Linked DNA regions of Homo sapiens. The protein of the gene in region 1 interacts with the protein of each later gene in a pairwise test. Each region holds a gene or a part of one and is shown in the gene's direction. Other genes may lie near its edges.

The links. The genes of interacting proteins can lie anywhere in the genome.
Region 2: the proteins of SCAMP5 (region 1) and FATE1 interact in binary tests that used the Homo sapiens proteins (3 or more experiments, as listed by UniProt).
Region 3: the proteins of SCAMP5 (region 1) and TLCD4 interact in binary tests that used the Homo sapiens proteins (3 or more experiments, as listed by UniProt).
Region 4: the proteins of SCAMP5 (region 1) and PIGP interact in binary tests that used the Homo sapiens proteins (3 or more experiments, as listed by UniProt).

The regions. Positions count from the first base shown.
Region 1 is NC_000015.10:75,012,300-75,016,491, forward strand, and holds part of SCAMP5 (secretory carrier-associated membrane protein 5), read left to right. Parts: intron 1-377; coding exon 378-506; intron 507-4,192. UniProt on the Homo sapiens protein: Required for the calcium-dependent exocytosis of signal sequence-containing cytokines such as CCL5. Probably acts in cooperation with the SNARE machinery.
Region 2 is NC_000023.11:151,719,022-151,721,719, forward strand, and holds part of FATE1 (fetal and adult testis-expressed transcript protein), read left to right. Parts: intron 1-2,373; coding exon 2,374-2,480; intron 2,481-2,698. UniProt on the Homo sapiens protein: Involved in the regulation of endoplasmic reticulum (ER)-mitochondria coupling. Negatively regulates the ER-mitochondria distance and Ca(2+) transfer from ER to mitochondria possibly implicating it in the regulation of apoptosis.
Region 3 is NC_000001.11:95,190,342-95,194,209, forward strand, and holds part of TLCD4 (TLC domain-containing protein 4), read left to right. Parts: intron 1-1,208; coding exon 1,209-1,527; 3' UTR 1,528-3,868.
Region 4 is NC_000021.9:37,064,519-37,067,485, reverse strand, and holds the end of PIGP (phosphatidylinositol N-acetylglucosaminyltransferase subunit P), read left to right. Parts: intron 1-105; coding exon 106-224; intron 225-1,773; coding exon 1,774-1,904; 3' UTR 1,905-2,112; downstream 2,113-2,967. UniProt on the Homo sapiens protein: Part of the glycosylphosphatidylinositol-N-acetylglucosaminyltransferase (GPI-GnT) complex that catalyzes the transfer of N-acetylglucosamine from UDP-N-acetylglucosamine to phosphatidylinositol and participates in the first step of GPI biosynthesis.

The DNA.
Region 1 (4,192 bases):
CAGAGCACAAATGCTGAGTGGAGGCTGGAACCCACGTCTGTAGATTCTCACACATCCGCTTCTTCTGCCTGGAGCTGCCCCCACTGAGAGGGTGGTACCTTGAGGCCCTGAGACAGTGTCACTCAGAATTAAAAAATAATAAATGCTGTCTGTCAAGGTGACATTGTTTTTTATTCTGAGTGACACTGTCTCAGGGCCTTTGGCTACTTTGGGATCATCACAGCTGACCCGGGGAGGTAGGGACGGCTGGGTGGGGAAAGCAGAGTGGCCGGTGGCCACAGGGGCCAATGGGGCAGCACAGCCAGGGGAAGGATGGGCGTCTTGGATTGTCGGGTGGAAGACTGGAGGTGATGTTGTGCAATGTGTCTCATCCACAGAGAAAGTGAACAACTTCCCACCATTGCCCAAATTCATCCCGCTGAAGCCATGTTTCTACCAAGACTTCGAGGCAGATATTCCTCCCCAGCATGTCAGCATGACCAAGCGCCTCTACTACCTCTGGATGTGTGAGTGCCATGGGATGGGGGTGGGCCAGGGTGGCTGGAGGAGGCAGGAAGACTGGGCGTGCTGGGCAGCGGGGTGGGGTGCCCACAGGCCTGACTGTCCTTCAGTCCCACTTGTGGCATATGCATGGACCATAAGTCTTCCCCTGCCAGGCTCCCAGAGGCTTCTTCCATGGGCCACCTCCCCGACTGGGCCTCAGTTTCCCTCAACCTCCCCCATCTAGGCCTCTCTTCCCTTCCTTCCCCTCCACCCTCCTTTCACAGAGCATCTGGACAGGGGTCCCTCTCTGCAGTGTAATCCCTGTCTTCTTGCTTCCCCTTTCCCTTCCACTGGAGTAACTTTCCAGGGAACCTCTGGGGACTGTCAGGACCTCAGGATTCTGGATTTGGAGAGGAATCCTTCCCTCAAAGCCTTATTTGTCTTGCTTTCTCTGGAAGATTGCTCAAAGAGAGGAGGATTCAGCTGGGAGTTGGGAGCTGTGGGATCAAGTTTGCCTGGTCACTGTGCTTGCCAAGCAGCAGGTTCCTCATTTGTAGGAAGAAAGTATTGGCTTGGCGATTGCTGTGGTTCCATGCAGCTCTGTGTTGGGTGGTCTATACCTGTAAGAGTCTAATGTCAGGCACAGTGGTTCACACCTGTGATCCCGGCACTTTGGGAGGCTGAGCCAGGAGGATCACTTGAGGTAAGGAGTTTAAGACCAGCCTAGGCAACACAGCAAGACCCCTGTCTCTACAGAAAATAAAAAAATTAGGCCTGTGTGGTGGCTCACACTTGTAGTCCCAGCTATTCAGGAGGCCAAGGCAGGAGGATCCAATGAGCCTAGGAGTTTGAGACCAGTATGGGCAACATAGCAATACCCCATCTCTTTAAAAAAACTAGCTGGGAATAGTGGCACATGCCTGTAGTCCTAGCTACTCAGGGGACTAAGGTGGGAGGATCACTTGAGCCCAGGAGTTCAAGGCTGCAGTGAGCTATGATCATGCTACTGCACTCCACCCTGGGTGACAGAGTAAGAGCCTGCCTCTAAAAAAATAATTAAATAATCTAGAATTCTTTATTTAGAAAACCTTAGCATCAATGTTCTAAGGTTTTAAGGCTGAGAGTGTAAAGGCCTCATTTCTGGTGATCTGTAGCAGGGGGTGGGAAAGGTGTCTTCTTGGGGGGATGGGACTTGGCTGTGCTGAGGCTAGTTAGAAGGTACCTCTTAGGCATGTGAGGGGGAGGCAAGCTGGCTATCCTGTGCTGGGTGTGAGCCCCAGGATCCCAAGATACCCGCAATGTAACTGCAGTTGGGTTCTGCTATATGTGACACTGCCCTGAGTGAGGCCTGCACTTAGCTGCCTACCTGGGCAGATGCTTGCATGTGCCGACAAGGTGGTAAAATATACTGTCTTTGCAGCAGGTCCCTCATGGCATGGTAGGAAGAGGATGGGGCAGACAGACTCAGTTTCAAGGCCTGGCTTGGCCTTTGAGTGAAGAAGGGATCTCCCACCATGTAACCTGAGAGAAGGGGGGATGGGACAGGTGTGGGTAAGTCTGTAGATGTTGGGAAGCAAATGAAGAAGTTACCTCTGATGGCTTCCATTTTTTCCATCAAATATGATGTAGTGTGGAGAGTGGGCTCACAACGAGGCCATGTTTGTCGACGGATAGTGAGGACACTCTCCAAAGAAACCCGGCCCCTAAGATTTCTGGGCCACACACAAGGTTCATTTGACATTGGCTGATGTGAATTTACAGTCTTCCTCATGGGGTCCCCTTTTTTCTTAGCAACATTCAGCTCAGGTACAGATGAGAATTATGTTCATCTAGGGTGAGTGTGGCCAGAAGGCAGGGCAGGGGAGGGAATAAGAAAATGAGTAATGAATTATGGAATCTAAGCTGGATAAGGAGAAGAGTGAAGACAGAAAGAAGCTGATGGCTAGAGAGAGAGAGGGGCTGAGCTCATGGGTATCCATTCCAGAGAGGAAGCAGAATAATTGCAGCAGAGGTGTTTGAGCAAGGGAGCTGGGGCAGGTTGGACTGGGGAGAGATGTGAACCAATATAATAGGTTAGTGTCTTTTCTATATAAAGAGCAAATAAAATCAGTTTTAACACCAAGCCTCCAGGAGATTTTGGGGCAATGAACAGGGATAGAGGAAATACAGCTGAAATGTACAGGAAGAAATGCCCACCCATGAGGGGCCCTGAGATGGGTGACACGGTGGTCAGGCCAGGCTTGTAGGTCACTGTGTCTGACCTGGGCTCTGGGAACTCAACTTCTGGGAACATCTCATCCAGAAGCTGGATTTAAGGGCTATAAATATCTCCTTAAGTCCTCACTAGGCACCCGCAGGTGCTTTACTCCCAAGGAAATGTATATAACCCTTGAGGTGCTTAAGGGTTCTATTCAGAAGACAGGACCACAGATGCCTGGCTGTTTGAGGCCACGGTTGAGCCCTCCTTCCTTTGTTTATTCAGCAGGTCTTTGTGGACTTAGCTTTGTTTTCAAGGAAGGGAGTGCCCTGATGTTAGATAATGATGTGCTGCACAGACCCGCATGTGTGTTAGTACCAGCATCACTTTTATCTGTAAATCTTTGAGGTCCCTGCTGGCCGTGACTCAGTGACACTGTGCCTCCTAGTTCAGCTAGATGAGGTGGGGACAGAGGGGGGGGGGCCTGGGTCCTGTTCTTGGGGAACTTTTAGTCTGGTTGATGGGCTGGGATTTATATCTGGGGAACCTTGAGAGCAGCCCAGGTCTGTAGAAGGTCAGAGGGATGGGAGATGATGAGGTTGCAGTAGCAAAGGAAGACTTCTTCAAGGAGCTGGCATGAGTGTTATCTAAGAAATAGATTAGATAGCTGGGCACTGTGACTCACACCTATAATCCGGCACTGTGGGAGGCCAAGGCGGGTGGATCACCTGAGGTCAGGAGTTCGAGACCAGCCTGGCCAACTTGGCGAAAAACCATCTCTGCTAAAAATACAAAAATTAGCTGGGCGTGATGGCAGGCACCTGTAATCCCAGCTACTCAGGAGGCTGAAGCAGGAGAATCGCTTGAACCTGAGAAGTGGAGGTTGCAGTGAGCTGAGATCGCGCCACTGCACTCCAGCCTGGGCGACAGAGTGAAATTCCATCTCAAAAAAAAAAAAAAAAAAAAAGAAATAGATTAGATAAAGACTGAGATTCCAGCCGCCAATGCCTGCCCCATTTAAGTGCAAGGTAGATGGCACAATGGCTAGAAGAGATGTTTCCACAAGGCCTTTTATTTTTCCCTTTCCATGCCCATATCTCGAAAGAGAAAGTGTAAGGTCGGTTTCCCATGTCTTGGGCTTGGTGATTGCTGTGAGTCTGGGAGGGTCAGGGGCTGAAGCCATTCTTGACAAGGACAAGAGCATTTCTACCACCCTGAGGCTTTGGGGCCCTTCAAAGGGGCTTGCTGGGCAGAAGCTCTGGGTTCTGGAGGCTGTGCTCTCCAGATTTCTCAGGAGTGGGTGCTGGGGTTGAGGGGTGGGGGTTGGTTCGAGCTCCCAGCTTGCGTTCTTACAGTCTTTACTCCTCTGCGTGTGTATGTGTGTCTCCTGTGTCTCTGTATGTATTTGTTGGTACGGGTTGTGGGTCTTTTGTGTGGGTGTGAATCTGTGAATGTGTCTGCATCTCTCTGTGCTTGTCTGCGCTGTTGGCCTGGCTTGATTGTGGGTCTCTG
Region 2 (2,698 bases), on another chromosome or scaffold:
CAGGAGGTCAGGCTCCTGCAAACCACTAATGTCCCTGAGACTAGGGGAGATATAATCTCTGGTTTAATTAAAGTTGACTACAAGGGCTAGAGGTAGACTGTTTGAAAATATAGACATTATATTGAATTTATAAATTAAATTTAGAAATTTAGAATTAGGAAATCTAATTTACTAATTCTATTTATTTATTAATTCATTCATTCCTTTATTTTTGAATAAAACAGTTAATGGAACTGCCTCTAGGAGAACCATAATATGCAAGGGTGAGAAAAGTTAATAATGCTATCCTGCTGACTTGGAAAAAAGCAGTGTGCCTTTAAAATTACATGGAAATTAAAATAACATTTTTTGAAATGATTAACAGAGAGAAGTTGGGACTTGGTGGGTTAACAACAAACTATGTTATCTGAAACAAACAAACAAATTCCAGCCATCAGCCATTCATCCTTATTTTTTGCCTTCAAATCTCTCAAAATTTTTTTTGTCCTTCTGATTCCAATTTATAGGAAAATCAAGCAATGGTCTGAAAATTTTTCTAAGAGACATCATTGATCAAATTATAGTCATGGGGTCTCCCTAATACCCATTATCTTTTTAATGCAATTTTTGAAGTATCTTAAGAAAATAAAATATTGTGACCATGAACTACGGTTCATAAAAAAGTTGCACCAATATCTGTGTGCTCCTCTTGAGAAAGATTAGTTATGCCTTATTGCAACAAACAGAGTGCAGTGGCAAAGTTCCTATGAAAATCCTTTACACAGAAATTGATCCACCTTCAGTTTGATGTTGTTACTTCGGAACAGAAGAGGGCTGCAGATATTTCTCAGGTGACAGGTGAGCCTTGGTTGTCTATTTTTTTGTAAGAATGAGGCAAATAGAAGAGCTAACCCAGTACTCTGTGCGCCTCAGTCAGGCCTCTCAAATGACAGGCTCTACTTCAGCAGGGTGAGCGGGTAAGGAACTGGCTGTCATGTGGGGCACCCTGAACCCTGCCAGAATGAAGACGGTTTTATTTTGTGTCACTTTCACCCCAGCTTTCTTATTCATTTGGTTCAGGTTTTGGCTTGGCGGTAAGTGCCTGGCTGCCAACCAGGAGTGAGAAGTGTGGATGACTGCTTCCTACATAGATCATTAGTTAAAGGCCCTGTTTTCCTCCCTCCCCTCCTTTCTTGTGATATGCCGCCATTGTCCTTGCAGGTCTAAGTCCTCTCTGGATGCTGCTGGCGGGGGCCTCCTTTGTCAGCTGAGTCCCATCTGCTTCCCATCCACAATGAGGCCTAGTTCCTCCATGGACACTTCCTAGATTCCAGAATTTTATTGAATTCTTTCATTAGCTGATGCCTCTTGTGTTGTCTTCTGTCTTATGGGTTTGTACTGTTTTACTGTCTTCACTGGCAATTAGTGGAGCCTTAACAGGAAGGAGTGTTAAATATGAGGGACATCGTAGTGTAATGGCTGAGAGTATAACCTCTGGACTGAAATGTCCTGGGTTCAAATTACTGCTCTGCTACTTCCTAGCTGTGTGACTTGGACAAGGTAATTAACCTCTCTGTGTTTCAGTTTCCCCTACTTTCAAAACGGGATGATAATGATACCGTTTCACAGGGCTGTGACGAGGAATCAGTCACTTAGTATTGGTAAGGGCTTAGAGGATGGCATGGTCCCTGGCATGTGGTGTGTGTTAAATAAGCAGCTTGTGAAACATTTCATCTTGAACTGGAAACCTAGAACTATGATTTGAGCCCAGGCAGGTCTGGCACCAAAAGCCACGCTCTTTTCCTCTATCCCCCACTGATGCTTCAAAGGCATCAGATGGCCCTGGCCCAAGGGCTCTGGGCCAGAGATGTACATGCTAGGGAGTTGTTGGCAGATGGATAAAAATGAAAGCCACAGGGATGGCTGGCTGAGCTTACCCAGAGGAGTTGCTGGTTTCCCAGTAGCCAGGGTTCTAGCCTTAGCCCTGACATTTACCACGCATCCTTGGAAAGTAAAGGCATCTCGCCAGGCCTCCATGGCCTGGGCTGCCAATCAAGGTTTTACGTTCTCCTTCAGTAGGTTGCTCAGCCTCTCAGCTAATACCTGCATGTGAAAGTTCTTGCAGAGGACAGGGACCCCTGTTACTGCTCCTCTTTTGCCACAGCCTGCCTGGATGACCAAGAGCTACCGAGGAGCATGGTGTGGGTGGGGTGGTGGCCAGCAGCCTGTGTGGGGTTCCCAAGCTTTCCTAGCGGCCTGAAGCTGCCAGCCCTTGATTCCAGAGACCAGGCACCATGTGATTCCCCATGGGGTGCACCATTGGCTCTGGGCAAACTGGAGAAGCCACTCATGTGGGGTTGGGCAGGCTACTTTACTGACCATTCCTTTCTTCAGGGGTCCCAGCTGCCAAAGCCCAGAATGCTGAGAGAATCAGGCCATGGGGATGCCCATCTCCAGGAGTACGCTGGCAATTTCCAAGGCATACGTTTCCATTATGATCGGTAAGAGCTGAGGGTCTGTGGGCCCTGGCTGCTCAGACAGGGCCCGGAGTGGGGCAGAGGGGCTGGTGAGCAGCCTGGCCAGGATGGAGTCATGAGGGCCTGGAATGCCTCCCTGTCAGAGACCATGAGTACCCTGGCTCCCTGCCCATTTGGGGCATCCCAGTGCTCTGCGGCCTAGCCGAGTTGGGCTGGACTGGGCTGGGCCAGGCTGGCTCAGG
Region 3 (3,868 bases), on another chromosome or scaffold:
CTTTTTTGAGATGGAATCTTGCTCTGTCGCCCAGGCTGGAGTGTGGTGGTGTGATCTCGGCTCATTGCAACCTCTGCCTCCTGGGTTCAAGCAATTCTCTGCCTCAGCCTCTGAGTAGCTGGGATTACAGGTGCCCGCCGCCATGCCTGGCTAATTTTTGTATTTTTAGTAGAGACGGGGTTTCACTATCTTGGCCAGGCTGGTCTTGAACTCCTGACCTGATGATCCACGCTCCTCAGCCTCCCAAAGTGCTGGGATTACAGGGGTGAGCCACTGCGCCTGGCTGGCCAGGCTGGTTTCAAACCCCTGACCTCAGGTGATCCACCTGCCTCAGCCTCCCAAAGTGCTGGGATTACAGGCGTGAGCCACTGCAATTTGCACTTCCTAATGACAATAGTGAACATCTTTTTATATGCTTAGTTTTCATCTATATATATTTTCTGATGAGGTTTTTGTTATGCTCTTTTACCAGTGTTTTAATTGGGTTGTTTTCTTATTGTTGACTTTTAAGAATTCTTTGTGTACTTTGTATACATGTACTTTACCATACATGTATATTTTAAATATTTTTTCCTAGTGTGTGGTTGTCTTTTCTTTAACAGTGTCTTTCGCAGAGCAAGTTTTAATTTTAACGAAGTCCAACTTAACTAACTTTTTCTTCCATGGATGACACTTTTGGTGTTGTATCTAAAATAGCACCACCAGATGCAAGATCATACAGGTTTTTTTCCTTTTTTCTTATGGAAGTTTTATAGTTTTGCATTTTACATTTAGGTCTATGATCCATTTTGAGTTAATTTTTGTGTAAGGTGTGAGATCTCTGCTTAACTTCATTTTTCTCGATGTTGATATACAATTTTGCACACCTTGTTGAAAAGACTTTTTTTCTCCACTGAATTACCTTTATGCTTTTGTCACAAATCAGTTGAGTATATTTGTGTGGGTCTATTTCTGAGCTCTCTTTTCTCTTCCATTGGTTTATTGATCTTTCACTAACACCATGCTGACTTGATTACTGTCGCTTTATAGTTAAGTCTTGGAAATGGGTAGTGTGAGTCCTCCAACTTTGTTCTTTTTCAGCATTGCGTATGCTATTCTAGGCCCTTTGCTCCTCCTTCACTGAATTTTAAAATTTAAAAACTAAAATAAAAATGGTTAATCCTCAGAGATGCACTATAAATGTGATGTTTCTTTAATTCATTTTTCAGGTGGTTCTTTGAAGCTCTGAAGTATCCCAAGTTTTCTAAAGCTATCGTTATCAATGGAATACTCATGACAGTAGTATTCTTCATCGTGCGGATTGCCTCAATGCTTCCTCATTATGGCTTCATGTATTCCGTGTATGGAACAGAACCCTACATAAGGCTTGGAGTTTTAATCCAGTTATCCTGGGTCATTAGTTGTGTTGTTTTGGATGTGATGAATGTCATGTGGATGATCAAAATTTCAAAAGGTTGCATCAAAGTCATCTCTCACATCAGACAAGAGAAAGCCAAAAATAGTCTTCAGAATGGAAAACTTGATTAAAAGAGTGCTACCGATAAGCAAACTTCATTACTACCCAGCATATCTGCTGATAGGATGAATTCTTGGCATGTTCTTGTGTACCTTTCTTAATTATAATTGTTATTCAGGATTTCAGTGTCATTTTTTTTAAACCTTAGAAAAGAGAAGGCCGGGCACGGTGGCTCATGCCTGTAATCCCAGCACTTTGGGAGGCCAAGGTGGGTCGATCACTGAGGTCAGGAGTTCGAGACTAGCTTGGCCAACATGGTGAAACCTCATCTCTACTAAAAATACAAAAAAAAGTAGCTGGGCGTGGTGGTTGGCGCCTGTAATCCCAGCTACTCGGGAGGCTGAGGCAGGAGAATCGCTTGAACCCGAGAGACGGAGGTTGCAGTGAGCTGATATTGTGCCACTGCACTCCAGCCTGGGCGACAGAGCAAGACTCTGTCTCAAAAAAAAAAAAAAGAGAGAAACTAAAATTAAAATTTAGTTTTCATCCCAAGATGTCTTTTCTGCCTTTCTTTTGCCTTATTTACAAGCATGGATAAAAATCTTAAAGGTTTAAATAAAAATGATCAATATAATGGTGAATCTTTTGAGAAATCTCTTAACTGCATTGGTATTTTTTCTCTGTGAAAGATGACTATGATAATCTGGTACAAATGGTTTTATGTCACCAATTTTGCTGCAAGAATGGGAACTGCTTTTAAATCTGTAAATAGCTCTTAACATTTGTTGTATGCACTCTTTTCTTACTATGGCTGTCAACACTTGTGTAGGGTTTAATTTCTAAATTGTTGGCATGTTCTTTTTCTCAGGCTATTCAGAAGTAACAACATTTTTCATTTCAGACATGCAATCACCTATTAATGATGAAATATTTTACCACTTTGGGAATATTTAATTAGTTTAGTCATGGAGAATACTTCCCACATTTTAAGATTTTTTCAAATATCACTGTCATTTCTATTTTAGCATTTTATCAAATTATTGCTTTTTTATTTTATAATAAGGCTTAAGACAGATTATAGACCTCCTTAAGAGATGAGTTTCTTCTTCTAAAAATGCATGTTGATAGAGGACTATTTAGGCTAATCGGAGGAATCATTAAGAAAGAAAGTTTTAACACTGTTTATCCCTATCTGCTTTCCTTGCACTTTTTCTGTGAAAAATATTTTCTGTTTGCAAAATCTTCCCTGAGTTCTGAACCCAGCACCATCAGTACCAAAGTCTTATGCAATATGTATTTATTATGCTCCTGAAATAGGCCTCTTCTTGATGAGACCCAAACTATTACAAAAATATCAGTATTCATATTTTACTCACAATTCATACCCGTGCTTACTTAGTTGGCATTTTAGTGCTTTGAATTTCTATCTTAAAGCACAGAAAAAAAAAGGTAATTTAATCCAAGTATTCTATCATCAAAATTATTGTCTGATTATATGAAGATAAATGACTGGCGACTCTGGTTGTGTGTGTATGTGTTTTGCTTTTACTTTAATTCTTGCAATCCAAATATAGAATTATATATTTATCTATTATTGCCTTTATTCTTTAAGCACTTGAGTTTAATGATTATTCTTACCTGAGAAAGGAAGAAATTTAATTCTACCAGTGATGAATACTTGAAATTAATTGAACTCATACCAAAAGATGTAATCCAGTTTCTCAGTTTGAAGGAGAACGTTTGACTCACTTTCATTGTTCATGCTAGCTGAATATAATCAAGACTTTTGATTTGATTTGCTTTTATTATTCAATGCAGATAGAGCCTGATAAGTTTTAGAACATTTAAAGAAGATTGAAATCTCAGTCAGTAACTAAATGATAAAATGAGATTGATTGGCTTATACTAGGTACATTTATTTTTGAAAGAATTAATGTAAAATAATAGTTATTTTTAAAGCAGCTAATATTACACTGATAATTTGTTGCTAAATTTAGTGCTGTCCACATCATAGGTGCTTAAATATGTACTGGTTAACTAGAGGGGGGTAGGAAAGCAAGCGGTTTTATCTTGTTCTTACCTTTTTGCAGGAAAAGTGGCTTTAAAAAAATTTATATAATAAAACTATTTTGGAAATTCATTCTTTTAGAAAGAGACCTTGAGATAAATATTTTTTGACTCTGGATATTTCTATAGTTCTGAACACAGATTTTAAACCCACTATCAAAATGAAAACAATATAAAGCTATATTAGTGAGTCTCCATGTAGCAGTTTGTTTTTATAGTTACTGTTTCATGCTTAAAACTTCATTCTTACTTTCATTAATGTTACCCTTCACTGGTATAGCCACTCACTAAATAAGTATATTTAAAACATCAAAATTTTGAACTAAAGTTTGTGATTCTCTTATT
Region 4 (2,967 bases), on another chromosome or scaffold:
TTTATAAAATTTAAATTTAAAAAACATGTTGGCTTTGTGACCGACTCTTGAGAATTACAACTTTTTTAAAGTGTCTATTATGTACTTTAATATTCTCTTTGGCAGATATTGGGCAGTTGCATTACCTGTCTACCTCCTTATTGCTATAGTAATTGGCTACGTGCTCTTGTTTGGGATTAACATGATGAGTACCTCTCCACTCGACTCCATCCATACAATCACAGGTAACTTTATATAAAAGGAAAGTGCTGGGGCAATGAAAGAGTGGAGTATTAGCACTTTTACCCAGAAAAGCAACAAAGAACAGGCTGCAAAACCCATGTTGGTGGTGCGCGTCTGTAATCCCAGCTACTTGGGAGGCTGAGGCAGGAGAATCACTTGAACCCAGGAGGCAGAGGTTGCAGTGAGCCAAGATCCCACCACTGTACTCCAGCTTGGGTGACAAGAGTGAAACTCCATCCTAAAAGAAAACACACACACACACACACACACACACACACACACACACACACACGGACAGTAAAAAGAAGCTACTAAGAGAAATAAATACAAACTTATATAAAAGGAAATATTTGCATGAAGGAATTAAGTTCTGATGAATACACACTAGCTATATTCATGGAGGAAATAAATTATAATTAATTATAGCACTGGTTAGCAGGTGTATGTTCCCATAAAAACCACAAGTATATGCTATATGTGTCTATAATATGTTCCCATTAACTTTGCCTGAGAGAAGCTTATCCTGAACAGACACCGTTGATCAAGGGATAGTAAATAGTACATGCAGACCTTGTTCAGAAAAAGGACTTTGGGGGTGTGTATCCTCCTCAGGATCATTGTGTACTCCTTATTCCAATTAAGTGGATAAAAGAGCCACAACACGTTCGTCTGGTTTTATTTTTTTAAAGTTCTTTCAAGTCTAAAGATGAAAATAAATCAGACTCCTGAGCTTGCTTAAATTCTAGAAAGTAAAGTATTTTTTAAGTTCCCTGGTATGATTTTTCAACTTTTCAAAACCTTTATATATTAGCCTCTACAATGTATTTTGAAAATCAATTCTATTATTTTTAAGTGTCTTTCTAATACACTGCATTCCATGCATTCTTGATTGGAATTGGCAGCAAATAGGTAATTTGTGCAAAGAGGGGAAATTGTTAAGATTGCATGAATATTTATACCAAATGATTTAATAGTTTTGCCATGTTGATTTAAATACATTTTCAAGGCCTGGATATAATTCTGTTCCCGTGAGAAATGTGCAAATGAGACTTTAATCATCATTGTATGGTTGATTAAAATATTGATTTCTTTCCAAGTTAGAGATGAAAAAAGTACTTTACTGATGTTTTTATTTTTTTATTTTTATTTATTTATTTATTTATTTTTTATTTTTTATTTTTGAGATGGAGTCTCGCTCTGTCACCCAGGCTGGAGTGCAATGGCGCAATCTCGGCTCACTGCAGGCTCCGCCCCCTGGGTTCACGCTGTTCTCCTGCCTCAGCCTCCCGAGTAGGTGGGACTACAGGCGCCCGCCACCTCACCAGGCTAATTTTGTGTGTTTGTGTTTTTAGTAGAGACAGGGATGTTTTTATTTTAATTGGGACATTTCTTCTAAAGAGAGGATTTAAGTAATCATCTAATTATGTTAAACATGATGTTTGTCACTATCCAAACGTCAGCCTAGTAAACTATGTGGTGGGTCTCCATCAGACACAGAGACTGTAGAAGAAATTGCTTAGGTAAACAGAGCTTTTTGGTCTTTTCTTACAGATAACTATGCAAAAAATCAACAGCAGAAGAAATACCAAGAGGAGGCCATTCCAGCCTTAAGAGATATTTCTATTAGTGAAGTAAACCAAATGTTCTTTCTTGCAGCCAAAGAACTTTACACCAAAAACTGAACTGTGTGTAACCATAGTAACACCAAGCACGTATTTATTTATAAGTTTTTGCCATTATAATTTTGACCATAAATTAATTTGACCATCTCTCTTATTAATAGAGAAGTAAAAAATGTAAGTTGACCTTCTCTTAGATTATGTTCAATGAATATTGTAAATGTTCAAGTATTGTTAATGAATAGAATAAATACAATATTGCATTCCCATATAGCAGACTTAAAAAAAAAAATCAATGTCAGTATAATCAAGAAGTTCCTCCAGAGAGGCATTTATATTGTAATTTGCAAAGGGCAATGATGTCCTTCCTCCTGTTTGTCCTGAGGGGCCCAGAATTCAAACCCTTAGTTTTTGGGAAGGGTACAGTTAGTACTTGTGCCATCAGATTCATGTCTAAGACACAAATATTTGTTGAGTACTCACTGTGTACCAGGTATTTTTCTAGGCACTGAGGATGAAGTAATGGTAAGATTCTCTCTCAAAGAGCTTATAGTTTTAGAAGCAGGGTGAGGCAACTAAGCAAATAAACAAGGAAATATAATTTGATGAGTGCTATGCAAAGAATTAAGATAATGTATTCTAGAATGCAAAGGGATGACTAGTTCACATTGGGTGGTCAAGGAAGGCCTCTCAGAGAGAGGCTGTTGGGATCTAAGTATAAAGCAGGTGAGGCAAAGACCATAAGGTGGGAAGGAACTTGGTTTGTCCTAAGAACAGAGAGAAGACTGGCATTGGGCATAGAGCATACCAAACAAGAGAGAATGTGGTCCCAGGTGAGCCTGGAGAGACCGGGCCCAGATTGTGAAGGGCTTTGTAGGCTGGTGTAGGAAGTGTGGATTTAAGTGTAAGTGTGATGAGTTTGAGGCACTTTAGGATCAAGCTGTTGGGAGTCTTGAAGGAAAGGAATGACATGGCCTGATTTCTGTTTTTAAAAGTCATCCTGATTGGTGAATGAAGAATAGATTCAGAGGAGGAGCTGGGAAGGGGACAATAACCATATCCTTACCCAGTAAGCATGAGATGGATAACATGAATCTGCTTTTCCTGTTCCCTAGTTTGTCCCAGT